Homo sapiens: one gene and its partners. The protein of the gene in region 1 interacts with the protein of each later gene in a pairwise test. Each region holds a gene or a part of one and is shown in the gene's direction. Other genes may lie near its edges.

Region 1 (4,033 bases):
CCATTCTTGAGTAAGTAGCCAGGATGGGGGGGCAGGACCCACTCCACTCCAGGAGGACAGACTGCACAGGAGCAGGGGCCAGACTTGATCTTTTTCCATTACGTGAATAAGTGGGAGGCTCCAGGGTGAAGTAGGGCCACCCCGATGCGCTGTGGAGAGGAGGCACGGTGGACGTAGAGGCTCTGGTTTGTCGAGTTGGAGACGGCAAGCCTGGAGAGCCAGGTGAGATTCTACTTCCCAGGCATGGTGCACCTAAAGCTGCACGGAGGTGTGTCCACCCCAAGATGGAATCCAGCCCGGCCCCTTCCTCTAGGCTGAGCACTGTAGCCCCTCCTCCCCAGCTTTTGGCCCCCGCTTTATGGTCACTTGGGGCTTCCTCATTGTAGTGCACTTGCAGAGAGGATTCTGGGGCGGCATAGACTATCAGCACCTTTAAAATGACGTGAGTGCGGGCCCCTGGGTCCCATAGAGCAATGGGGGACTTGCCTGCAGCCCCTTCCTCTGTGGCCCAGCACCCCCTCCCCTCAGCCTCCTTTGGTCAGGTCAGGTACAGTGCAGTGGGGGTGTTGCAAGGATTAAATGAGAGGACAAGTAGAAGGAAGAAGAGGGAAGATGCTTTGATTTTTAAAGGTTTTTTGATTTTTAAAGGTTTTTTGAGACCAAATCTTGCTTTATTGTCCAGGCAGGAGTGAGTGTGTAGTAGTGGAAGCTCAGCTCACTGCAACCTCTCACCAGAGGGTTTAAATGAGTCTCATGCCTCAGTGTCCTGCATCGCTGGGATTACAGGGATGTGCCACCAGGCCCAGCAAGTTTTATTTTTTTTTTTTTTAAAGAGACAGTGTTTTGCCATGTTGGCTAGGCTGGTCTTGAACTCCTGACCTCACGTAATCCACCTGCCTCGACCCCTCAAGACTTCCCAAAGTTCTGCGATTACAGGCGTGAACCATCACATCCAGCCACCTGGTTTTGTTTAAATAAATGTTCACACTTTAACATGACATTTCAGCTGGGCACAGTGGCTGAAGTTTGCAATCCTGGCACTTTGGGAAGCCAAGGTGAGAAGACAGCCTGAGCCCAGGAGTTAAAGACCAGCATGGGGAACATAGCAAGACCCCATCTCTATTGGGACAGTTTTTGAATTAGGCCGAGTGGTGCACTCCTCTAGTCCCCGCTACTTGGAAGGCTGAAGTGATTGTGCCACTGCACTCCAGCCTGGGCAACAGAGTGAGACCCTATCTCAAAAGAAAAACTACACTGCATTGATTCTATTTAATAAATAGCTGTTGGCCACTATAAGAAGCCAGGCCTTATTCCCTGTGCTGGGGTCACCCTGTCGAGTCTCGATGGAGGTCAAGACAGGAAGAAACATTGAAGGCAGCCGTTGTGTATAGTGGTGGGTCTCAGGCCACCCCAGGGGAACAGCACTGAGGTGGCCTTGGTTGAGCTCCAGCCTCCTCCCCCCGACCATCTCCTGTTGCAGCATCACTGCCGTGAGGCTCTCAGATGGCTTCACCTTTGTCATCTATGAGTTCTGGGAGACAGAGGAGGCGTGGAAGAGGTGAGATGCTGGGTCCCCACAGCAGGTGAGGGAGACAGAGGGAAGTGGGGGGGCTGTCTTCCTGGAGCCAGGCATCCTTGGAGGGGAGGGTAAGGCCGAGTCCAGTCAGCAGATTCCCGAGGCATCTACCCGCTGGCATGCTTGCGTCAGTAAACCCTGGTGGAGGCAGGAGCTCTTGGTGGGTAGTGAGAGCCCCCACCACACTCAGCTGGGCTTTCCTGCTTTCCCCAGGGTTGCTTCTGTGCCCCTAGAGCACCTTGTCCTCCTGGAACAGCCCTGGGGGCCGAGGCACTGCCTTCTTTACCACCCTGTAGAGTTGAGGGCCTAACCTAGAAGGTGACTCAGTCCCCATGTGATCAATTGTTCCAGCGACTAACCTCCCCTCCAGCTGAGTGCCCGGTACGAGGGACGGAGATGGGGTAGGGTGTCAGCAGCTCTGATGGGCCTTAGGCCTTTGTCCTCTGCTCAGCACACATCTGGGAGAGGGTGGAGACTATTGCTGATGCGCCAGACCCCACAGGCAGGAAGCGGGGCCTAGGGGTAGCCCATGCCCCCATCTCCTGCTTCCCTGGTAAACACTCACGGTTTGCTGACAAACTCAGGACCCCAGTGGGAACAGGGGCGGTCATGAGAAGTGAGAGTGTCCCCTCCCTGTCCGTACTTCAGTGACTCATAAAACGAGGGACTAAAAGCCTTCGCAGCTTCTGTGTTGTCATGGGTCCCAGGCAGAGGATGGCCCCACTCCTCCTGCTAGGGTAAAGGGGGAGGTAGAGGCTCTGTGCAATGAGTGGGGGGATCCCGCTGCCCATTTATAGCTCACAGGGAAAAAGAGAAGCTCACTGCCCACCCCAGAGTCAGCCTCCCTGGGCACCCCCTCACCTTCCCACAAAGGCTCTGAGTCCAAAGACCCCCCGTGCTTATTGATAAGCTCCCCATTTTGGGCTAGAGCTAGGATTAACAGGGGAGCCACACGCGGAGCTCCACTCCTGCCACCCCTGACTCACACATGTCCCTGCGTCACAGGCACCTGCAGAGCCCCCTGTGTAAGGCGTTCCGGCACGTCAAGGTGGACACACTGAGCCAGCCTGAGGCCCTCTCCAGGATCTTGGTGCCAGGTAGGGGGCAAAGGCCTGGAACTGCAGTGGCCACCTGACTGGAGAGAAGGGCAAGAGCCTAGAGGCTGCCCCATATCTCCCGGGGACTTGCCTGCTTGCTGTGGGCCCACTGTCAGCTCCTGCCACCAATGCCAGGCTCAGAGCCAGCCCTGAGGTGGCCCCACATACAGGTATGCCTGCCAGAGCTTGCACCAGAGCACCCCCTCCACGGCCCCCTACTTCCAGCCAGACTGAATTTCCCTTCCCAGGTGTGTGGTTTGCACCTGGGTGACCAGCAAGGACCTGTGTGTCACACAAGGACTCAAAGCCATCCCCCGACCTGTCATTCAAGACGACCACCACCAGCTACGAGGCTGCCCACATTCGCACTCCTTCCCTCTAACGTGTCTCTCTCCTTTTAGCTGCTTGGTGCACGGTGGGACGGGACTGACAGCCTCCCAGAGGCCCGTGGAGGAGCCCACCAGCCCCTTCTTCTTGTGAAGGAAATCCCGTTTTTTTCTAGACAGACACTTTGGTGCAGAAGCTTCTTTTCAATCCATCCTCCACAAGAAGGTGTTTCCCTGTTGTTAAGTGAAGGAGGCCGCCCCTGCCCCCACCTGAGAAGGCAGAGCAGTGTCTGTGCTGCCAGGTCCTGGTGAAGCCCAAGGTTGAAGGGGGCGGCTTCCTGGAGCCAGCACCCCTGCCTCCTGGTCCTGGCCTCTCCCCTACCCCTCACATGGCCACGCATGACCCACACTGACCACACCCTGCCCTCTTCGGTGACATTCTTCTACCTAGTAGGAGTCATGCCCCTGTAGTGCCCAACCTAGCCAGGTAGCCACCACTGTGCCCAGGCGCCAAATAAACCCTGGTTGGGAAGAGCTGTGTGCTCTGTGTCTGTTTCCTGGTTGACAACAGCAGGGGGCCAGGGACCCTTCAAGTGCTCCCAGCCTCAGTTTTCTGAACCATGAAATGGTGGTGGTCACTCTATGCGGTATTTGGGAACTAGGCTCATGCCTATTCAGGAGCTCAGCACCACACCTACCCTCAGGTCAGTAATTCAAAGGACTGGGCACAACTGTCAAAGTCACGGTCAAGGTAGGTAGATGACAGACAGACAGACAAAATCCAGCAAAGAAAGAGGCTCCCGGAGTGGGGGGCCAGGCACGGGGCTACCAGTAAAGGCCCATAGCACTGAACCCTCCCAGCTTCAATGCTGATAGAGCATCACCAATCAGGGATGCAGTCCTGAGTCTTACTGGGGTTCGGTGACGCATACACGCTGACACCTCATGGCTCAACACCCCACCATAAATCACATGGTTGGCCCAGACCACGCAGTGTGGCTCAACACAGACACTGTCACCAGGCAGGACGCTCC
Region 2 (3,500 bases), on another chromosome or scaffold:
ATTGGACTTGGCTTGAACAATTATAGTGGAGTCATGGTGTGATAGTCTGGTTAGAAAAAGAGTTGAATAAAGAGAAAGGGAGGAGAGGAATTGGGGGGAATACTGGAACAGATTTTGAGAAATTTGGTTGTAAAGGGGAACAGAGAAATGGAGCAGTAGCTGAGAGGGAGAAAAAGTGTTATGGGAATTTTTTTTAAGATAGGAAAATTATAGTGTACTTGGGAAAATTGATTGTATAGAAGGGAAAGGGGAGAATTGCTGAAGCAGTGTCCTAAGTGAGAGTGTATGGGATCTAGTATGCAAGTGAAAGGATTGGATTTAGGAAAGAGCATGGAACTATTTCTCTATAGGACAGAAGATAGAGTATATAGTGGGTTTAGTGCTGTAAGTAGGTAGATGTGATGGTGGTGAGTCACTTTATAGTTTAAAAAAAGCATCCTCGATCCCCGTCCTTTTTTAACAACAGCCTCTTATCTGCCATTCTACTCCTGGTCAAATGATAATATACTATTGACTTTTACGTTTTACAAAAAGTACTTAAAAATTGTTGATTACTGTGTTCTCTCACATTTGATGTAAACTTCTTTTCCTTTTCAAGTGGAACTTGCTATGATCATGGACCGGCTGTATGGTGGAGTTTGTTATGCAGGAATTGATACAGATCCTGAGCTAAAATACCCAAAAGGTGCTGGGCGAGTTGCTTTCTCCAATCAGCAGAGCTATATTGCTGCCATTAGTGCTCGGTTTGTTCAGCTTCAGCATGGTGATATTGATAAACGTGTAAGTTGCATATTGGGAAATCACTTATGTCCTATAATAAGGTGCTGATCCAAAGCCTCATACCCTAACGAGTTAATAATATAATTTGAACACTTTAATTTTTATACTTCTGTAAGTCTTAAAGGATATTATATAAAAATATCCTTGAAATGGAAAATTACTGAACACACTTTAAACTTTAGATATAATGTAAAAATATTAATATCATTGTGCAGCCATGTCAAAATTTTTTAATCAGCCAGTAAGGTCAAATATTCTAACCGTGGAGGCAGAGGTTGTTTTAAGAGCCTGTACATTGGAGTCAGACTGCCTGGGATTGAACCCCATTTCTACAAATTAACCTTCTGTATGCCTCTTTTTCCTCACTTGTAAAATAGAAAACAATGATAACATGTCTTTCTCAGTAATTTTGAGGATTAAATGAATTTACATATATATAAGCACTTAGAATAGAACTTGACGGAGAGTGTTATTTAAATGTTTGTTTTCATTTGTCACAAAATCTAAAATAAAAATGCATTGTGTGTATTTCTCTAAAATAATTGACCTAAACTTAAAATTTTTTTAGTAGCATTGCTTGAATCATCACAATAAGAACTTGTAAGAAGTACTAGGAATGATAACTGAAACCCCTACTGAATAATTCCAAGTACTGACTACCTTCTAAAATAGGGAAAGACACTAGCATTCATTTACAAATCTATTTTATGCCAAAATCTGTGAACAGTTCCTATACATAGCTAAATATATTATAAAATAATCATGTTTATAATTATAGTATAGCAGAAATACATTAAGAATATGCGGGTAAATGAATTTTTTATATCTGAATTAGTAGATAGAAGATACAATTTGAGTGGGTACTCCTTTTCCCCAATATAACAGTTTCTTCAAGCCTCTTCTGGGGCTGTTTGGCACATTAAAAGACTATTTTGGGGACAGGGAAGCTGGTTAATTAATACCGATTGACTAGACCATGCATGCTAGAAGTAGTCCTCAATGTAATTACCCAACCGTCTCATTTAGAAAAGAAATGCAGCATAGGTTCAGTTCACAAATGCAGAGTAGGTTTTTTTTGTTTGTTTGCATTGCTACTTAAAAGGTTGCCAAAAAAAAAAAACTAAGAGGAGGTGCTCTGCTTTTGACAAGACACGCATACGTAACTTTTCTGAACTTGTCTGAACATTAAGAGTTCCTGTAGTGTTGTGTTTCTCAACCTCTGCTGTACATTATTCACCTGGGAACTTAGAAAAATCTTGACATTTGGGTCCTACCCCCTGAGGTTCTGCTGAATTGGTTATAAAGCTCCGGAAGTGACACAAATGTACAGCAGTGGTTTAGACCGCTAACAGAGAGGTGATAGGTCACAGACGACGTTATTTACATAGTATGTAATCATGGTATTTAATATACACTACCAGAAGAAAAAGACTGTTACAGTGTCATACCTCATACCTCTTTGTTTCTGAAATTATAGTGAAGGACCGATTATTTGGAGCAGAGTACTGACTCTTAAAGAGCAACTCAGTTGCAGAGCAGATGAATTGAGATACATGTGCCTTCTTAAAAAGGCATTGAAATACCTGAGGGAAAAGCTTATTTTCTAAGATATGTGCTACAAAGGTAATTTTGAACTGTATTTGAAAGAATTTGAGCCTTAAATATTTTACAAGTCACTAATATTGCTTATACAAAGAAATATTAAACCATTAACCTTTATACCTTTCATCTCTCCAATATGAATATGGTTATTAAACCATAAAAATTGAATAAATATACGTGTATAACTGCCAACCCAGAGATACACGGGATACTTATTTGGCGGGAATGAAAATTGTTTATTCCACTTAACTTTTTAGACTCATGGATACTGTGGTTTAGTTCCTATCTGATAGCTGGAAAGCAGTCACCACAGATGTGTAATTCATTATATTTTTTTGTATGTTATTTCATAAGTAGTATAATTCACTGTGACTTCTAGTAAATGTTAGAAAATAAGACTAGGTGAAGTGTAGTGTTAATGAAACTTCCTTTTGCATATAGAAGAGTTTAATTATTAGAGATTATTAATGAAAAATAGGTTTTGAAATTCAATTTTCCATCTTTAAAGTCTGGTTTTGAGTAAAGTAGGTTAGCTTCATAAAACTAATATCTAGAATTTTAAAAATACAAATAATTGAAATCATTGCATTTGTGAAATTTTCATTCAACAGTTTTATATTAAAATGTAACTCCTGAACATCTGGTGTTTTATCAGGTATTATGGAAGTGAAGTAAACATCACAGACCCTGGTTTCAATCTGTCTAAAATCTTATTTTAAAAAAAAAGAAATAACCATGAGAAAGAAACCCAGAAAACATATGTAAATGTATTGCATTTATGCATATATTTATAGCATTTCTACTTCGTGCTAGATATTCTTCTAGGCACTGGGAACTGAATGTTGAGCAAATGGGTGCTGTCCCAGTGTTCATGGAGTTTATAATTCAGTGAGATGAAATCCAGTTAACTCTCATGCTACCTTAATTTATTCTTTGTTTGTAATAATGTTCCCATAAAGGAAAAAGTTGAGAGATAAAAATTAAGCATAACAATTTTAAAAATTTGTGTTAAAGATTGTAAAGCCACTGGAAAAAAGGTTAAAAACTCTTAACTGACAAAAGAGAACTCATAAATCAATTTAAAAAACAAACAAAACTCCAGCAAGAAAATATGCAAA
Region 3 (3,500 bases), on another chromosome or scaffold:
ACTTTGGGATTTTTGCCAATCCAGTAGGTGAGAATTGTATCTCAGTGTGATGTCTGATTATGAACAGGTCATATTTTCTGAGGTTTTAATTAACTGGTCTCCCCCGCCCTTTGAACAGTGCCCAATTTAATCAGTCACACACAAAAATGTAAATTATTAGTTCAAGCTTTTCTCCAGGTACTTAATTCTTCCTCTTGGAGGGAAGATCAGATTTCCTTCAGAGCTACCAGGTGCAAGGAGGAGAATATTCAGCCCCACCATGTCACCTTCCCCACCAGAAATGAGGCAGATACACAGAAAAGGTTAGGTTTCCAGATGAACTGGTGGGAGCCCTGGCCCAGAACCTGGCCACAGAGCTGCTGTTTTCTTGCTAACCAGACTAACCTGGCTCCAGCCAGCTCTTTCAGAACCCTTTTGATACCTTATTTGAAAGTATCTGCTGTCTCTGATCCAGGTTACAAATGACTTATTTCTAACAGTGGTCTCTAGATGAGATCCTTCGTTGTTGTTGTTTTTTTCTTTCTTTCTTTCTCTCAGCATGGAGCTTTTGGAGAGTGTCTTTATTCTGAGTGAAAGAAAAGGAAGAGGATGAAAAAGCAAGAACAGTTTAAAGGAGCTCCTTCTCTCATGGACCACTTCCATCCACCCACTCCCCAAATCACAAGATGCACATTTGGTTTACATCAGTGAATTCAGTGATTTGTGCAGATGTGAATTAACCCAATCCCATGACTTGTCTAAGTGAAAGTGCCTACATGGAATAAACTGAAAAGGGGTGCTGGATGGAAGAGATGGTTAGTTTTAGAACATAAATCTTTGTCAAGATTAAGACAGGCCCAGGTTTTGCTGAAGAATGGAATCTGGACCAGCGTTAGAGGACCTGTATGTCTAGTGAAGAAAAACCAGAAGAAAGTGAGATATACTTCGTTTCTTCCAAAACTTTGTCAAATAAGGTTAACCCTTTAATCTCAAGAGAGAGGGAGGAAATAGTCTTATTTTTAAACTACCATGAAATTTGAGATTTATTAATATTAGTACTGGGGTCATCTTACAGTATTGTGTTAAATTGGCTCTGGAGTTAGCCCGGGCTTGTAACTGGCAATTGACAGTGTGGTTTCTATAGGAAATAGTGATCCCAAACCAGGTACAATCTATGATTCTAGATTGCTTATAGTATGGAGTATTCCTTTCCAACTTTGTTTTTCTCTTTCTCATAGGATTCTAACATTTTCAGAGAACCTTTTGGAAAGAACAAGCCTACTTCAATAAATGAAGGAGAATAAAGAAAATTCAAGCCCTTCAGTAACTTCAGCAAACCTGGACCACACAAAGCCATGTTGGTACTGGGATAAGAAAGACTTGGCTCATACACCCTCACAACTTGAAGGACTTGATCCAGCCACCGAGGCCCGGTACCGCCGAGAGGGCGCTCGGTTCATCTTTGATGTGGGCACACGTTTGGGGCTGTATCCTGACTCTCCTTGGAATCTGTTACAGATAGGCTCCCCACTCACCACCAAGAAATAATTAGATTCTGTAGACAAAATATATAGTAATTTCTCTGTACCAGAGCAGTTCTTAAATATCTGTTTGAATGTTGTTTCTGGTGGGGGTTTTTCTCTTTCTGATTTGTCATTTTAAAGGTGTAGACTTAGCCACTGAGGAGGTGGCCAGCCAGGAGGATATGAGGCACCCATTAGGATCACAGTTGAGGCTGGGCACAGTGGCTCATGCCTGTAATCCCAGCACTTTGGGAGGCCTAGACAGGAGCATCCCTTGAAATCTGGAGTTCGAGACCAACCTGGGCTGCAGTGAGCCAAGATCACACCACTGCACTCTAGCCTGGGTGACAGAGATGCTGTCTCAAAAAAAAAAAGATCATAGTTGAAGTGTTTCTAAAGGGTGTTAAAAGTATAAAACTTCAGCTTGCTAATTCTTGTACCAGAATTCTGACACCCTGAGATTCCCATCTCATTACTTTGCCACTAATATTGTTTACTTTACCATTGATTTTGTTGTTGTTGTTTGTCTTTTTGTTTTTCTACATTTAACTAAGAGTATAACCTGTAAAAGTTATTGGTTAGAGTCCTTAACCAGAACAACAGACACTATGATACCCTGGCAACTGGAATAATTTATTTTCATCGCTTCTATATGTTTCATTCCTTCAAGCAATTCCCAAGATATGTAAGTGTTTGAATTTTATTGTAATTCTCTGTCATATGTTATTATTTCCACACAGTTTGGTGGACTAATTATAAGCTCTATTTTTCTCATATTTTCCAGAAAGTATTTATTTTTATATGGTATATACTGCATATAAACAAAATCAAGTTTGAACTTTTTTTATTCCAATTAGCCATGTTCAAATCTTTTCACTTAGGCCAATATGGACCATAGTCATATTGCGCTTTGTATGAAAGTTTACTCCCGTGGTACCTTTCCCAGCATAAATTTGGGCTTATAATTGAGACTCAACAAAGACCAAGAAAGCAAAATGGAACAGAAGTTGTCTATGCCATATCACTCATTCTTCGGTTACTCCTCAAGACGTGCATTGTGTCTTACTCTCTGTGGGAGATAGAGTAGCTTTCAGTCCAGGATAAGTGGTATGACATGCACAGAACACGTGATGGAAAGTGAGGCCATCAGAAGATACTGATAAAAGAGTTGTGGCATTCAAGGAGGAGACAACTTACATCTTGGAGAGAGCAGGGAAAGTGCTAGGAAGAAGGTGCCAGCATTAAGGTAAGCCTTAAACGTACATAGGGCATAGCCATGCCGTGATGGGCTAGGTCAGTGGTCCAACAGAAGCTAGCATAAGCAGAGGCAGGGGGAACCATGTGACACATTGTCAGCCCAGCCAGGAGCTTGATTTGGCAGGAAGGAAATGATGAGACCCTGGGTGGATAGGTAGACTGGGTCAGACCACGATAAGCCTCGAATGCCAGACTTCAGAAATTTGGCTTCAGTGGGTGAACAATGCAGTAATTAAAAGGTTTCGTGAAAATGACAGACTTAACATTAAAGTCATTGTGTTGATTTGTTAGCTAAGATTTTAGTTAGATTTATATACATGCCTTCCTCACTGGTTGTGAAGTTCTTGAAGAAGGAGACCATGTTGGAATCAGTTTTGTACCCCCGGCAGAGTGTCTGACATCTAGTGTGATCAGGATTATGTGAGGAGAGTGGCATGTAGGAAGGATTGGAGTGGGCAAAGAGAAGCTGAAGACAGAGCAGTTCAGACCCCAGTGATATAGGGACTGAGCTAAGGTTGAGGCAACTGGAGGGACAGTTTCTTCATCCATTCAGGCTGCTATAACAATATGCCTTAGACCCAATAATTTACACACAACAGAAACTTAACTCTTCACAGTTGTAGAGACTGGGAGGTGTAAGATCAAGGTGCTGGCAGATTCTGTGTCTGGTAAGGGTTTGTTCCTCATAAAAGGGCTCCTTGCCGCATCCTCAAATGGTGGAAGGGAGGAACAAGCCCCTTG
Region 4 (3,500 bases), on another chromosome or scaffold:
GAAAAGAACACTTAGAACAGAATCAGGCACGTGATGAGTGTTCTGGTAGTGCTAGAAGTGATGATTGTGATTCTAGTTATTACCTACCAGGAGTTCTGCTCAGCTCTGGAGCCATACATACTTGAGATGCAGGGATAGATGTAATTTCCTTACGGTTATTTGTCATTTGCCAAATATTTTATTCTTTTCAGCCTGTGACATTCTGGCCATTGATAAGTCCCTGACACCAGTCACCCTGGTCCTGGCAGAGGATGGCACCATAGTGGATGATGACGATTACTTTCTGTGTCTACCTTCCAATACTAAGTTTGTGGCATTGGCTAGTAATGAGAAATGGGCATACAACAATTCAGGTAAGAAACTCTAGCCATGTATAAAACGGCCTATGCAGTACAGCATCCATCATGATTACTTTCACTGCACAGACAATTGCCATTTGTCTGGCTTTTTAAGCATTTGTTCAACAGATATTTACTGAGCACTTTCTATGTGCCAGACATGGTGCTGAGTCCTGGGGATAAAGATGAATGAGGCCAGGCACGGTGGGCAGATCACCTGAGCTCAGGAGTTTGAGACCAGCCTGGCCAACATGGCGAAAGTCCATCTCTACTGAAAATACAAAAACTAGCTGAGCATGGTGGCAGGCACCTGTAATCCCAGATACTTGGGAGGCTGAGGCGGGAGAATTGCTTGAACCTGGGAGGTGGAGGTTGCAGTGAGCTGAGATTGTGCCACTGCACTCCAGCCTGGGCGACAGAACGAGACTCTGTCTCAAAAAAAAAAAAAAATAGATGAATGAGACATGGGCCCAGTTCTCAACTAACTCATGGACAGACAGCAACTGAAATGCAGCCTGGCAGGGAGCTCAGTGCTGCAGGCTGCAGTCCAGCTGTTGAGGTCTGGATCCTGGCTCTACCATTTACTAACCAGGTGACCTTGTGCAAATTACATAACTTCTCAGTGCCTTGTTGACATAATAATTATAGAACCTGTCCCCTAAGATTGTTGTAAAGATAATATAGTACATATCAAACCAGGGTTTCTCAATGACACTGCTGACATTTGGGGCTGGAGTTGTGAAGAGGATGCTTTGTGTATGATAGGACGTTTAGTAGCATCCTAGATGTTACGAACCTCCCCCCACAACTGTGATAACCAAGAATAAATGACTCCAGATATTGTCAGATGTCTCCTGGGGGGCAAAATTGCTCCCACTTGAGAACCACTGATATGAAGTGTTTAGATCTTACCTGGCACATAGTTAAGGACTCAATAATTGTTACCTGTCCCTGCCATCATCATCATCACAGGAGATAGAAAGGGGACTAACATTGGTGACCAAGGATCAAGAAGTGTCTTGAGAGGGGATTAGTTTTAGGGAGGGACTTAAAAAAAAAAAAAGTGTCCTGAAGTGTGCCACAAAATTGAGGAAGTCATCCTACAGCAGTGGCCCTACCAGCCACCTTTGTGCTCAGGCCTAAGGGACAGCAATCGATGGCTACAGCTCTGCCAGTTAAAGAAGGGACCAATCCCCAAGCACAGAGAAATGCTGGCACAAATGACCGTTTTCGTATAAAAAACAGGACACACCTGGACACACAGAAACCAGAAAGGGAAGTGTGATTGGATTCCTTGTAGGTGTGACCACACATTGGGTTTAAATGGCTTTTTCTATGGAAGAATACAGAGCCGTTGCACACAGAGATAAAGATGAAAGAGGGTCAGGCACGGTGGCTTATGCCTGTAATCCCAGCACTTTGGGAGACCGAGGTGGGCAGATCACTTGAAGTCAGGAGTTTGAGACCAGCCTGGCCAACATGGTGAAAGCCCGTCTCTACTAAAAATACCAAAATTAGCTGGTCATGGTGGTGGGCACCTGTAATCCCAGCTACTTGCAAGGCTGAGGCAGGAGAATCGCTTGAACTCGGGCAGTGGAGGTTGCAGTGAGCCAAGATCGTGCCACTGCACTCCAGCCTGGGCAACAGAGTGAGACTCTGTCTCAAAAAAAAAAAAAATGAAAGAAGAGGGAAAATCAAGGTCCTGGATGGATATTGACCCTCCTGTGAATCCTTGAGATAAGATGCTTCTTTCCCATTGAAATTAATCTAGATCCTCAAGAGGTCTGTGTGTGCTGGGGGAGGAGGTGAAAACAGCACTTCAGGTTGTTCTGTGACTGGCATTTTCTCCCATGTGTCAGATGGAGGTACAGCTTGGATTTCCCAAGAGTCCTTTGATGTAGATGAAACAGACAGCGGGGCAGGGTTGAAGTGGAAGAATGTGGCCAGGCAGCTGAAAGAAGATCTGTCCAGCATCATCCTCCTATCAGAGGAGGACCTCCAGGTAAAGCCTCCTCCACAACCTGCAACAATGTTCATCCAGCCTCTGCCCCCCGCCCCAGCACCTTCTTAGCTTCCATACTTGCCATAGCAATTTCTTTGTTTTAATCTTAATTTTTAAATAATTCTTAAATTACAACTAAGATTTTTCATCTTCTCATTCTCACCTAGAGTAATTTTTCAACCCTCGTCACGAAGCAGAATTACCTGTGGATTTTTTTTTTTTTTTTTTTTTTTTTTTGAGACACAGTCTTACTCTGTCGCCCAGGCTGGAGTGCAGTGGTGCAATCTCAGCTCACTGCAGTCTCCACCTCCCGGGTTCAAGCAATTCTCCTGTCTCAGCGTCCCAGGTAGCTGGAATTACAGGTGCACACCAACACGCCTGGCTAATTTTGGTATTTTTAGTAGAGACAGCGTTTCATCATGTTGGCCAGGCTGCTCCTGAGTTCAAGTGATCCACCTGCCTCAGCCTCCCAAAGTGCTGAGATTATAGGCGTGAGCCACCGTGCCCGGCCAGATTTTTTTTTTAATACAAATGCCTGGGATCCACCCTAAACCTAGTTAGGTGGACGCTGGGGTCAGGGATGCCCTGCTAGAGAATGTAGCGTTGGAGTAGATGGCTTCACATCCCAGCGCTGTCACCACGACTTTGAGCCAGTAGCTTAGCTTCTCTCCTTGTGTTTTCTCTCTAGTAAGATTGGGATAGGCCAGGTGCAGTGGCTCACGCCTGTAATCTCAGCACTTTGGGAGGCCGAGGCGGGCAGATCACGAGGTCAGGAGATCGAGACCATCCTGGCTAACATGGTAAAACCCCATCTCTACTAAAAATACAAAAAATTAGCCGGGCCTGGTGGTGTGCACCTGTACCTGTAGTCCCAGCTACTCGGGATGCTGAGGCAGAAGAATCGCCTGAACCCAGGAGGTGGAGCTTGCAGTGAGCCGAGATCGCACCACTGCACTCCAGCCTGGGTGACAGAGAGAGACTCCATCTCAAAAAGAAAAAAAAGATTGGGATAAAAACAGTATGTTTTCATTCAAAGAAAATTTCTCTTTGAGACAGGGTCTTGCTTTGTCACCCAGTGCAGTGGCATGATCATAGCTCACTGCATCCTCGACTTCCTGGGCTCAAGCCATCCTCCCACCTCAACCTCTCAGGTAGCTGAG
Region 5 (3,500 bases), on another chromosome or scaffold:
TACTCCACTAAGTCTTTTATAATATGGGGATGGAAGTGACATTGTTTACTATATCATATGTAAGTTTGGCCATACTTGCCAACATGTATTTCCTTAAGATTTCCAGCATACTACCATATTATATAGTATCATAGTATCTCTTTCATTCTTCACTGATGATGCTAGAGTTATATATGAGATTGTCTTCATACAAATTGTCTTATCCTAGTTTTTTATTTTATTAATAACTGTAATTTTATCAGAATAATTAAAGTTATCTTAACACCTCGATTTCTGTTACTTATTTTGAATTACTAAGTAACAAGTAGAGTATAGAGAAATTGTTTTTAGCTTGAGAGAGTAAAACATTTTAAAACATAGAAATGTATAGCTATTCTTCGTATGTTAAAGGCTGTCTCTTTCCTTCTCTTTTTTTTAGGTTGATATTTCTGGATTTCAGCTTTCTTCTCACACTCAATACAGGACAGCTTTTGAAACCATAATACTGCTTACAAAAGTAGGTTTTCTGTTTTACTGTGTTCTGTATTTGGTCTAATACATAGGAATGTAAGACTATATGAAATAACATAATTACAGTCTATACATACTCCACCTTTAAAGCTTTGATGTCAGTTAAAGAATTACTTAAACTTGTTGTCTCCATTTCCTCTACATTCATTTGCTCCTCAAACTACTGCAGTGGATAAAACACTCCTGGGCTTCCAAATCCCCATTACATACTTCCCAGGTTTTTATCTTGCTTCAGCTTTGGCACATTGTTTAATTCCTCTTGTTTCTCATTCTTAGTTTTGTGACCGGTAATCTTCTGGTTCTATTTCTACTCTTACACTATTTCTCCGTCTACTTTTTAGGCTCTTTTTTCTCATCCTTTAAGTAACATTATTCAGAGTTCTGTCCTAACCTTATTTTCTATCTTACTCACTCCCGTTGCTTTAGTTACAATTAATAATATTGATGACTGCCAGATCTGTAGCTGATACCTAAATCTTTTCATTGTTCTTTCTTTTTTTTTGAGACAGAGTCTTGCTCTGTCTGCCAGGCTGTAGTGCAGTGGCATGATCTCGGCTCTCTCTGTCTCCCGGGCTCAAGTGATTCTCCTGCCTCAGCCTCCCGAGTAGCTGGGATTACAAGCGTGTGCCACCACGCCCGGCTAATTTTTGTATTTTTAGTAGAGACAGGGTTTCACCATGTTGGCCAGGCTGGTCTCAAACACCTGACCACAGGTAATCCACCCACCTTGGCCTCCCAGAGTGTTGGGATTACAGGTGTGGGCCATTGCACCTGGCCTTTGTTGTTCTTTAGACCAGATGCCCATCGGACATCTTCTTTGACTAGATGTCCCATTAGTCACTTAAACTTAATATGGATAAAAGTAAACTTTTAAAAAACTTTTCGGCCATCCCCATAACTTAGTGAATGTGTAAGCTATGATATACTGATTCTTCTCACCACCTACACAAGCCCTGTCAGTTTTTTATCCTAAATCTCTCTGAAATCCATCCTCTTGTCTTTATCTACGCTGTTATAATCATCAGCCCTTCTTATTGGAATATTGAATCTGGTCCTTTCCATTCTCCCTGTGTCCTGCCTTGCTTCTCTCCAGTCCATTTTTTATATGGCAGCTAGAGTGATCTTTGTAAAAGCACCAAGCTGATGCTGATGTTCCCTGCCTAAAACACTTTGATAGACCCCCATAGCTGTTAGGTTAAAGTCTAACCTGAGCATGATTTATGAAATCTGCAAGTTTAGGCCCCTACCTAGCAGTCCTCCTCTGTAACCCTCTCCCCTAGATGCTATATTTCAGCCATGTGATTTCTCTCTAAGACAACATGGTATTGCCTTACCTCCAGGATTTTATAGATCCTATTTCATTTGCCACTTTTTGTCTATAATGAATAATACTGCTGTGAACATTTGTATGCAGGTTTTTGTATAGACATGTTTTCATTTCTCTTGGATGTATACTTAGGAGTGGAATTGCTGGATCAGATAATAATGCTTTGTTTAACATTTTGAGGAACTGCCAAACTATTCTGAATTGGTAGCACCATTGTGCCATTTTACAGTCCCACCATCAATGTATGTTCCAATTTTTCCACATGAATGTCAACACTTGTTATTGTCTGTCGTTTTTACTTTAGTCATCCTAGTGGGAGTGCAGTGGTATTTTGTTATAGTTCTTATTTGCATTTCTCTTAAGACTAATGATGCTAAGAATCTTTTTATGTGCTTATTAGGCATTTCTGTGTCTTTGGAGAAAAGTCTGTTCAGATTCTGTGTGCATTACTATTTGTATTATTTGTCTTTTAATTGTTGAGTTATAAGCATGTTTTGTATTTTTGGAAATAAGTCCCTTCTCTTTTTTTTTTTTTTTTTTTTTTGAGATGGAGTCTCACTCTGTCGCCTGGGCTGGAGTGCGGTGGCACAGTCTCGGCTTAATGCAACCCCCACCTCCCAAGTTCAAGTGATTCTCCAGCCTCAGCCTCCCCAGTAGCTGGGATTACAGGCATGTGCCACCACGCCCATCTAATTTTTGTATTTTTAGTAGAAACAGGGTTTCACCATGTTGGCCAGGCTGGTCTTGAACTCCTGACCTCAGGTGATCCGCCCACCTGGCTTCCCAGAGTGCTGGGATTACAGACGTGAGCCACCATGCCCAGCTGGAAATTAAGTCCCTTCTAAGATACATAATTTGAAAATATTTTCTCCCCTTCTGTGACTTGTCTTTTCACTTTTTCAGTGTATTTTTTCTGTATTCTTTGTGGCACAAAACTATTATTTATTTATTTAATTTTCCAGTTTTATTAAAGTGTAATTGACATAAAAATTGTGTGTACTTAAAGTGTACAAGTGATATTTGGATATATGTTTACCTTGTGAAATGATTGAATCAAGCTAATTAACATGATCCATCATCTTACATACTATTTTATGTGTGTTGAGAATATTTAAAATCTGTTTTAGCAATTTTCAAATATATAATACATTAACTATAGTCATCATACTGTAAAATAGATCTTCAGGGCTTATTCATCCTATTTAATTGAATCTTTGTTCCATTTGACCAACACCCCTCCATCTTCCTCCCCCAAGCACCCTGGCAACCACCATTTTCTCTGCTACTATGAATTCAACCTTTTAAGATTCCACATATAAGTGGGATTATGCAGTATTTTTTTTTCTGTGCTTGGCTTATTTCACTTAGCATAGTGTTCTCCAGGTTCATCCATGTTGTTATAAACGACAAGATTTTCTTTTTTTAAGGCTGAATAATATTCAGTTGTGTGTGTGTATACCACATTTTCGTTATTCATCCATTGATGGACACTGAGGTTGATTCCATGTCTCGGCTATTGTGAATAATGTTTCAGTAAAAATGGGAATGCAGAGATCTCTTTGACATACTGATTTTATTTCCTTTGGATATATACCCAGAAGTGGGATTGCCGGATCATATGGTAGTTCTATTTTTAATTTTTTGAGAAATCTTTATACTGCTT
Region 6 (3,500 bases), on another chromosome or scaffold:
AAAAAAAATTTTTTTTTTAGATTACTCAGGCAGTCAGGCGTGGTGGTGTGCACCTGAGTAGTCCCAGCTACTCAGGAGGCTGAGGTGAGTGGATTGCTTGAGCCCAAGAGGTTGAGGCTGCAGTGAGCCATAATTGTGCCACTGCACTCCAGCCTGGGTGACAGAGTAAGACCCTATCTAAAAAGAAGAGAAAAGAAATATGATAGCTTTGTGCTCATAAATTTGACAGTTTAGAGGAAATGGACTAGTTCCTCAAAAGCTAAAAACTGCCAAAACTCAACTAAGGCGAAGTAAGCAACTTGAATAGTGCTATCAATATTAAATAAATTAAATTAGTAATTAAAAAGCACCCACCCCAAAAATAGCCAGACCAAGAAGTCTACCAAACATTTAAAGAGAATTAACACCAACATTACACAATCTCTTCTGGAAAAAGGAAAAGGAAGGAATATTTCTAAGCTCATTTATGAGGCCAGTATTACCCCTAATACCCAAACCAGATAAAGACAGTACAAGAAAAGGAAAACTATGAACCAATATCTCTGATGAACTTAAACTCAAAAATTATCAATGAAATATTAGCAAATTGAATCCAACATTGTATAACAATAATTATGCAACATGAACAAGACAACATTGCTATTCTCACATTTTATTTAGGAGTATGGATGAGGGTGAGAGGGAGGGTAGGGAAGATACAAGCAGTAAACAAATAAGTATCCAAATGAATTTCAGAAATAAGTGTCTTGAAGAGAATTAAACTAAGCAATGGGGGTTGGAGAATGGAGAAGAAGGAAACTTTTGAGAAGGTTACACTTAAACCGATTCAAGAAGGAGCCAGCCTTTCAGAGATCTAGAATCTTCTCAAGAGACACCATTAATGAAATGAAAAGCCTAGCTACAGACTTGGGGGAACCTGGAAAAAATATTCACAAATGCCAAAAGTGTGACAAAGGGCTCATAGCCAGAAGAATTAGCTATAAAGAACTCTTACAAATCAGTAAGAAAAAGACAAACAAATATAAAAATGGACAAAAGATTTGAACAGGCTTTTCAAAAAAGATATTCAAATGGCCAGTAAGCATATAAAAAAACACTGCTTCATATTATCACATCAAAGAAATGAAAATTAAAACTACAAGAAGATACCATTGTACACCCTTCAGACTCACTATACCAAGTGTGTGTGTGCCCTAGTGAGGGAAGATATGAAGCATCTGTGACTCATACCTTGCTGGTTGGAGTGTAAAATCAGTTTGAAAACTGGGAGTTTTTAATGAAATTAAACCTATGCCTATTGTGACTTGGCAATTTCTCTCTTTCTACCTAAGAGAAATGTGTATATAAGTTCAAAAAGACTTGTAAAGGGATTTTCATAACAACTTTATTAATAATATCAAAAACTGAAAACAACCCAAATATCCATAAGTAGAAAATGGGTAACTAACTTGTGGTATATTTATATAATATAATATAATATAATATCATAGCAGTAGAGAAGAATAGGCTACAGATTAATTCAATAACATGAGTAAATATAAAAACATTATGTTGAAAGAAGGCAGACCAAAAAGTACATGCTGAGTGAATCTATTTGTATGAAGTTCAAGAATAGACGAATAGACAAAAATCTTTGGTAATAAAAGTCAAAATGGTGATTAGTGACTGGAAAAGAGCATAGGAGAATATTCATGGGAATGGAAATATTCTATATATTGATCTCAGTGGTAGATATACAGGTTTTATACATGCTAAAATTTATCTAGCTGTACATTTTACTTTATGGAAATTATGTATTAAACAAACAAACAAAAGATCTGGGTGAAGAATATACCAGGCAGAGGAAACAGCTAGTACGAAGAACATAGCCTGGAAATGGATTTAATGTGGTCAAATAATAGAAAGCCAGTGTGTCTATAATAGGGAGAATGAGGAAGTGGGCTAAAAATTACCAGTTAACTTAATGTAGCAGTGTACTAAGATGATATCAAATGTCAATGTGTTAACTGAGTGTATTATTCACTTAGCATTTTTTGGTTTAAAAAATTTTGTTCAACTATTTGACATTTGTATCATATGGGAAAATATTGACTTAAAAGTCAGTAGATTTGCCTCCACTCATAAATAACTGACAGCTTTTGACATTTCTGGATCTTCATTCCCTCATTTATAAAATTATGAAGTTGTTCTAAATGGTAGCTGAAGACCTTCCCAACTATAATTTTTTTGTGTATCTAGAACTTGAAAAATGCTAAACAAAAGAAGACATCATTATTATTCTTTTTATCTACAGAAATATTTATAGCCAAAGTTATAATGGGAACTGGCTCTTCAAAAATACTTAGAATATTTTAAATCCTTATTAAGGGAGCAGGGGGGAAACCTATAGATGCTTCATCAAAATGTTCTCTAGGAAAACCAGGAAAAGAATGAAGTTCATCTGTTACATTATCACATTATATTATATGTATTTAAAGGAACAAAAAATAATCAGAAGACAGTTTCTGCCAAAATAGATTTTAATTTTTATAGTTTTTCACAGTATTTACTTTATATTTGAGTTACCTGTATACTTAAGTACAATGGTTTAAATAAATGTGGAGTTTAGATTTAGACCTTGTCTATCCCTTTTAGTTTCTGTAATCCAATCATTGAAGTATGGCTTGATGGTAGAAGAGTTTTGTTTTTTAATAAAATGCTTCAAGTACTGTAAATGTATGTTTGATTTTAGTTTCAACAGTTTCTTAAAAACTAATACATTCAATTTTTATTATATTTATTTAGCATTTTTTATTTAACCTATCTATTCATTTCTGTCTTATTTTCAGAACTGAAGGCAGAAGCTAGTCTAATGGACCAGATGAGTAGTTGTGATAGTTCATCAGATTCCAAAAGTTCATCATCTTCAAGTAGTGAGGATAGTTCTAGTGACTCAGAAGATGAAGATTGCAAATCCTCTACTTCTGATACAGGGAATTGTGTCTCAGGACATCCTACCATGACACAGTACAGGATTCCTGATATAGATGCCAGTCATAATAGATTTCGAGACAACAGTGGCCTTCTGATGAATACTTTAAGTAAGTATACATAAACACAGGCAATTGGAAAAGTAAGAATTTATAGTGGAGCCATATTGATTGTGACCTAATATTTGGATAAAGAAAAAGATTCCTATTTTATGCATTTGATACTATTAATAATTACATTTTTATTGAATTATGGTTTTCTTTTGAATCTGTGACATAATGCCTTCTTGGTTTTTCTCCCATCTCTCTAGATAATCTTTCCTCTCACTCCTTTTCAAGTTTATATGATCCTCTGCTCAGTCATTAAAGTTGGAGTTTCTCAAGGCTTACTTTTGGGTTCTTTTTTTCTTTTCATTCTACAATTTCTCCCTAAATAACTTCCTCCATGTTTCTGTTGCAGTCAATACTTATGTGTAGGTAACTTGCAAATTTATATCTCTGATTCAAACCTCTAGGCTTTAGACACATGTT
Region 7 (3,500 bases), on another chromosome or scaffold:
GAGATTTTAGTTTTGGAAATATTTTGTGGGTCCCTCTACTTCACAAAAGAAGTCTGAAACAAACACTCTCATCTCCTTCTGGAGCTAGGATTCCCTCTATGACAACATCTATTTCTAGATGCCTTGAGACCCACCAAACATGGTAGTCTAGCAAAGCTAGCTTGAATGAGAGACCCACATTTTCAGTGCCTTCATCATCAAATACCAAAAATGGTATTCTGTGGATACCTATCCCAAATAGCTACCATGGAGCAGATTGTCTTTGTTCTTTGGGATATGTACCTATATTTGTGATATTGTACCTTGAACTCTTCCAAGTGTTTCCATTGGTATCCCCAGAATAGTCCTGTGAAGGTGGAAATGGGTGCAGTCTTTCTGAAGGCTAATCTGACAGAGCACTGTTAGAAATTTACCATATGGACATGTCCACCATACCTCCCTCAAATTCTACCAAGATACATTGAAATAGGTTCACAGCAGCTTTGTTTATACTAGCAAAAAAAGCAGCAAACTTCAGCCCTCATCATATGAGACTGATTAAATAAATTATAGTATACCATACGATGGAAAATTTTCAGGTATTTAAAAGAATTAGGCAGGTATGTATGAGGCTTTACCTATAAATATCCCACATATGTGAGTAAACAGCCAAGTGGAGAATATGGACATGTATAAAGATCCCTTTGGGATAACTACATAAAGAATTCAAGTATGTACGTGTGTATATATACTTACTTGAATTCTTTATATTCTATAGAGAGACTTTTATAGAATATGTAGAATCACACACACACACATACACACAGAGAGAGAGAAATGGATGTACTTGCAGGTATGGACATAAACATTTTTTTTCCTGGAAATAATTAGTTATAGGGAAAGAGACTAGGAATGGGGGAAAGGAAGCATTCAAAAGTGTTTTCTTTTTACTTTCCATTTTGTACCTTTATGTTAAAAATATGATTGAACTATTTGAATTTTCTTTTTAAGTCAATGGAGTTATCTACATGGTAAAATTATTGGCCTTTAAACTCTTTACATTTATTTATATTTTTAATGTAAAAGTTCTATTAAATGATTGCCCAACACCTCCACAAGTAGAAAACACTTCCCCTCATTATCCTTGGTCAGCCATTGGGAGACAGGTGAAGGATCCAGCCCCACTGTCCTCCATGAGACCTCGGTCCCTCTTGTTGCCTGTTTAGCGTGACTACATCATTTATCTTCCAAAAGAAGACAGGTTGGCAAGTGAAAGGGGTCGCTGACTAGACAGAACCACACAGAACAGGCATAAACCGGGAATGTTCTGGGCACTCTGGGATGTTTGTGTTGTCTGTAGGTTGGTGATAGTCTTACCACCTATACAAAGATCTCCTTGTGATTACTCACTGGTGTCTATTTCATTTGCTTTGGTTTTAGCAAAATCAGTCAAGGTGAAAATTAAGCTCAATAAAAAAGATGACAAAGGCCGGGACAAAGGGAAAGGCAAGAAAAGGCCAAATCGAGGAAAAGCCAAACCTGTAGTGAGCGATTTTGACAGCGATGAGGAGCAGGATGAACGTGTAAGTGTAGCCGACTGGGACTGAAGGCGGAGACGCCCTCTCCCCTGCTTGCTGGCCTCTTGCATTTCCATGCCCCTTCAGCCTTTTCGCTTTATTACCCAGGACTGGAAATGTCAGGATTTAGTGAGATTTCATTATTGAGGGATGTGAACGGAGCTGTATGATTTAGAACAAAGGATTGGGGGCTTTGTTTATTGCCTTTTTAATAGTCTTCAAAAATGAAAAACTACCAAATCAAGCTTCCCTTTCCCCCTTTTTAATCTTCCCACATGCTTTCTTATAAATATGGTTTTCCCCGTAGCCAGTTAATATTTTACATGCATCACAGCCAGCATGGTGCCTGGTACATAACAGTAGATTAGATGGAAGAATGAGAAAAACTGTTATGACGTCAGAGTTATTGGCTCGAGTTGCTACTTAAGGGACCATGTAAAAACTCAAAGGACTTTTTAAGTACCTAGGGGTGTTATTTTTCATATTTGAAAAATTCAGTGAGCATCTATTGAGCCAGGCCTTGTAATAGGTACCTCCCTGTGTGGTAGCATATTAAATACTGATGTCGGCATCGTGAGATAGATGTCACTCTCAAATAACATGTTATGGAAATGGTTAGGTTATGGGTGTTTTGCTACAGATCACGTCGCAGAGGTGGAATTCGGACCCGAGTAGCATAACTCAGTCTAGTGTGCTATGTCTGACTGGGCAGCAAGGTAGAAGAGTGGGCAGAAGCTCCTAATACCTTGCCTTTTGAAATACCCTTCATTTCATCCATTCACTTTCCAGAGGATGGTTTCCTGGCACCCACATTATTTTCTTTCTGGAAAGATAAATTTCCCTTTTCCTAGTTTGATTTTCCTTCAACACATTACCATTTTGGTAAAATTTCAGAATTATGATCTCACCCCAGCCTTAACCCTTGATGCAAGCATTTTCAAATACATTTTTCTTTAGGAGATGTCAAATGCAGGGTATTTTTTTTTCTCCCATGAATTTTCTAAAACCTGGGGCTGAAAAAGAGAAAATATTAGCCATAAACCTTTCAAGCCAAAGTGAAAGGGCACAAACAATAGCTTAGAGGGTGGGCTTTGCTTTGGGGTTTTTCAGTAAGAAAAACTTCTCAGCTTAGAGACTGTCGATGCCTCTTTAATGTGTTTCTGTCCTCCCACGGAAAGAGATTTGGCGAGTTGTTTCCAAAATGTCATTTTTTCCTACTGGCCTCTTGATGGTTTGTTGTTATATCTTCTTTTTCTTGCATGTGATGTTACTTCATTTTATCTTCTTATTTTTACTTTTAGGAACAGTCAGAAGGAAGTGGGACGGATGATGAGTGATCAGTATGGACCTTTTTCCTTGGTAGAACTGAATTCCTTCCTCCCCTGTCTCATTTCTACCCAGTGAGTTCATTTGTCATATAGGCACTGGGTTGTTTCTATATCATCATCGTCTATAAACTAGCTTTAGGATAGTGCCAGACAAACATATGATATCATGGTGTAAAAAACACACACATACACAAATATTTGTAACATATTGTGACCAAATGGGCCTCAAAGATTCAGATTGAAACAAACAAAAAGCTTTTGATGGAAAATATGTGGGTGGATAGTATATTTCTATGGGTGGGTCTAATTTGGTAACGGTTTGATTGTGCCTGGTTTTATCACCTGTTCAGATGAGAAGATTTTTGTCTTTTGTAGCACTGATAACCAGGAGAAGCCATTAAAAGCCACTGGTTATTTTATTTTTCATCAGGCAATTTTCGAGGTTTTTATTTGTTCGGTATTGTTTTTTTACACTGTGGTACATATAAGCAACTTTAATAGGTGATAAATGTACAGTAGTTAGATTTCACCTGCATATACATTTTTCCATTTTATGCTCTATGATCTGAACAAAAGCTTTTTGAATTGTATAAGATTTATGTCTACTGTAAACATT

What was found.
Region 2: the proteins of NECAB2 (region 1) and CPEB2 interact in a two-hybrid assay, tested with the Homo sapiens proteins (one study listed by BioGRID).
Region 3: the proteins of NECAB2 (region 1) and CCNK interact in a two-hybrid assay, tested with the Homo sapiens proteins (one large-scale study listed by BioGRID).
Region 4: the proteins of NECAB2 (region 1) and DFFA interact in a two-hybrid assay, tested with the Homo sapiens proteins (one large-scale study listed by BioGRID).
Region 5: the proteins of NECAB2 (region 1) and GTPBP10 interact in a two-hybrid assay, tested with the Homo sapiens proteins (one large-scale study listed by BioGRID).
Region 6: the proteins of NECAB2 (region 1) and EAF2 interact in a two-hybrid assay, tested with the Homo sapiens proteins (one large-scale study listed by BioGRID and IntAct).
Region 7: the proteins of NECAB2 (region 1) and SMARCA2 interact in a two-hybrid assay, tested with the Homo sapiens proteins (one large-scale study listed by BioGRID and IntAct).

What each region holds. Positions count from the first base shown.
Region 1 is NC_000016.10:83,999,244-84,003,276, forward strand, and holds the end of NECAB2 (N-terminal EF-hand calcium-binding protein 2), read left to right. Parts: intron 1-1,480; coding exon 1,481-1,558; intron 1,559-2,581; coding exon 2,582-2,673; intron 2,674-3,074; coding exon 3,075-3,103; 3' UTR 3,104-3,533; downstream 3,534-4,033. UniProt on the Homo sapiens protein: May act as a signaling scaffold protein that senses intracellular calcium.
Region 2 is NC_000004.12:15,061,481-15,064,980, forward strand, and holds part of CPEB2 (cytoplasmic polyadenylation element-binding protein 2), read left to right. Parts: intron 1-598; coding exon 599-780; intron 781-3,500. UniProt on the Homo sapiens protein: May play a role in translational regulation of stored mRNAs in transcriptionally inactive haploid spermatids. Binds to poly(U) RNA oligomers. Required for cell cycle progression, specifically for the transition from metaphase to anaphase.
Region 3 is NC_000014.9:99,491,409-99,494,908, forward strand, and holds part of CCNK (cyclin-K), read left to right. Parts: intron 1-537; exon of another isoform or gene 538-912; intron 913-1,217; 5' UTR 1,218-1,269; coding exon 1,270-1,466; intron 1,467-2,105; coding exon 2,106-2,187; intron 2,188-3,500. UniProt on the Homo sapiens protein: Regulatory subunit of cyclin-dependent kinases that mediates activation of target kinases.
Region 4 is NC_000001.11:10,466,030-10,469,529, reverse strand, and holds part of DFFA (DNA fragmentation factor subunit alpha), read left to right. Parts: intron 1-191; coding exon 192-353; intron 354-2,197; coding exon 2,198-2,340; intron 2,341-3,500. UniProt on the Homo sapiens protein: Inhibitor of the caspase-activated DNase (DFF40).
Region 5 is NC_000007.14:90,377,716-90,381,215, forward strand, and holds part of GTPBP10 (GTP-binding protein 10), read left to right. Parts: intron 1-418; coding exon 419-496; intron 497-3,500. UniProt on the Homo sapiens protein: May be involved in the ribosome maturation process. Complements an ObgE(CgtA) function in E.coli ribosome maturation. Plays a role of GTPase in vitro. When missing, disorganization of the nucleolar architecture is observed.
Region 6 is NC_000003.12:121,869,709-121,873,208, forward strand, and holds part of EAF2 (ELL-associated factor 2), read left to right. Parts: intron 1-2,828; coding exon 2,829-3,080; intron 3,081-3,280; coding exon of another isoform or gene 3,281-3,336; exon of another isoform or gene 3,337-3,358; intron 3,359-3,500. UniProt on the Homo sapiens protein: Acts as a transcriptional transactivator of TCEA1 elongation activity. Acts as a transcriptional transactivator of ELL and ELL2 elongation activities. Potent inducer of apoptosis in prostatic and non-prostatic cell lines.
Region 7 is NC_000009.12:2,189,847-2,193,346, forward strand, and holds part of SMARCA2 (SWI/SNF-related matrix-associated actin-dependent regulator of chromatin subfamily A member 2), read left to right. Parts: intron 1-1,419; coding exon 1,420-1,562; intron 1,563-2,857; coding exon 2,858-2,893; 3' UTR 2,894-3,500. UniProt on the Homo sapiens protein: ATPase involved in transcriptional activation and repression of select genes by chromatin remodeling (alteration of DNA-nucleosome topology).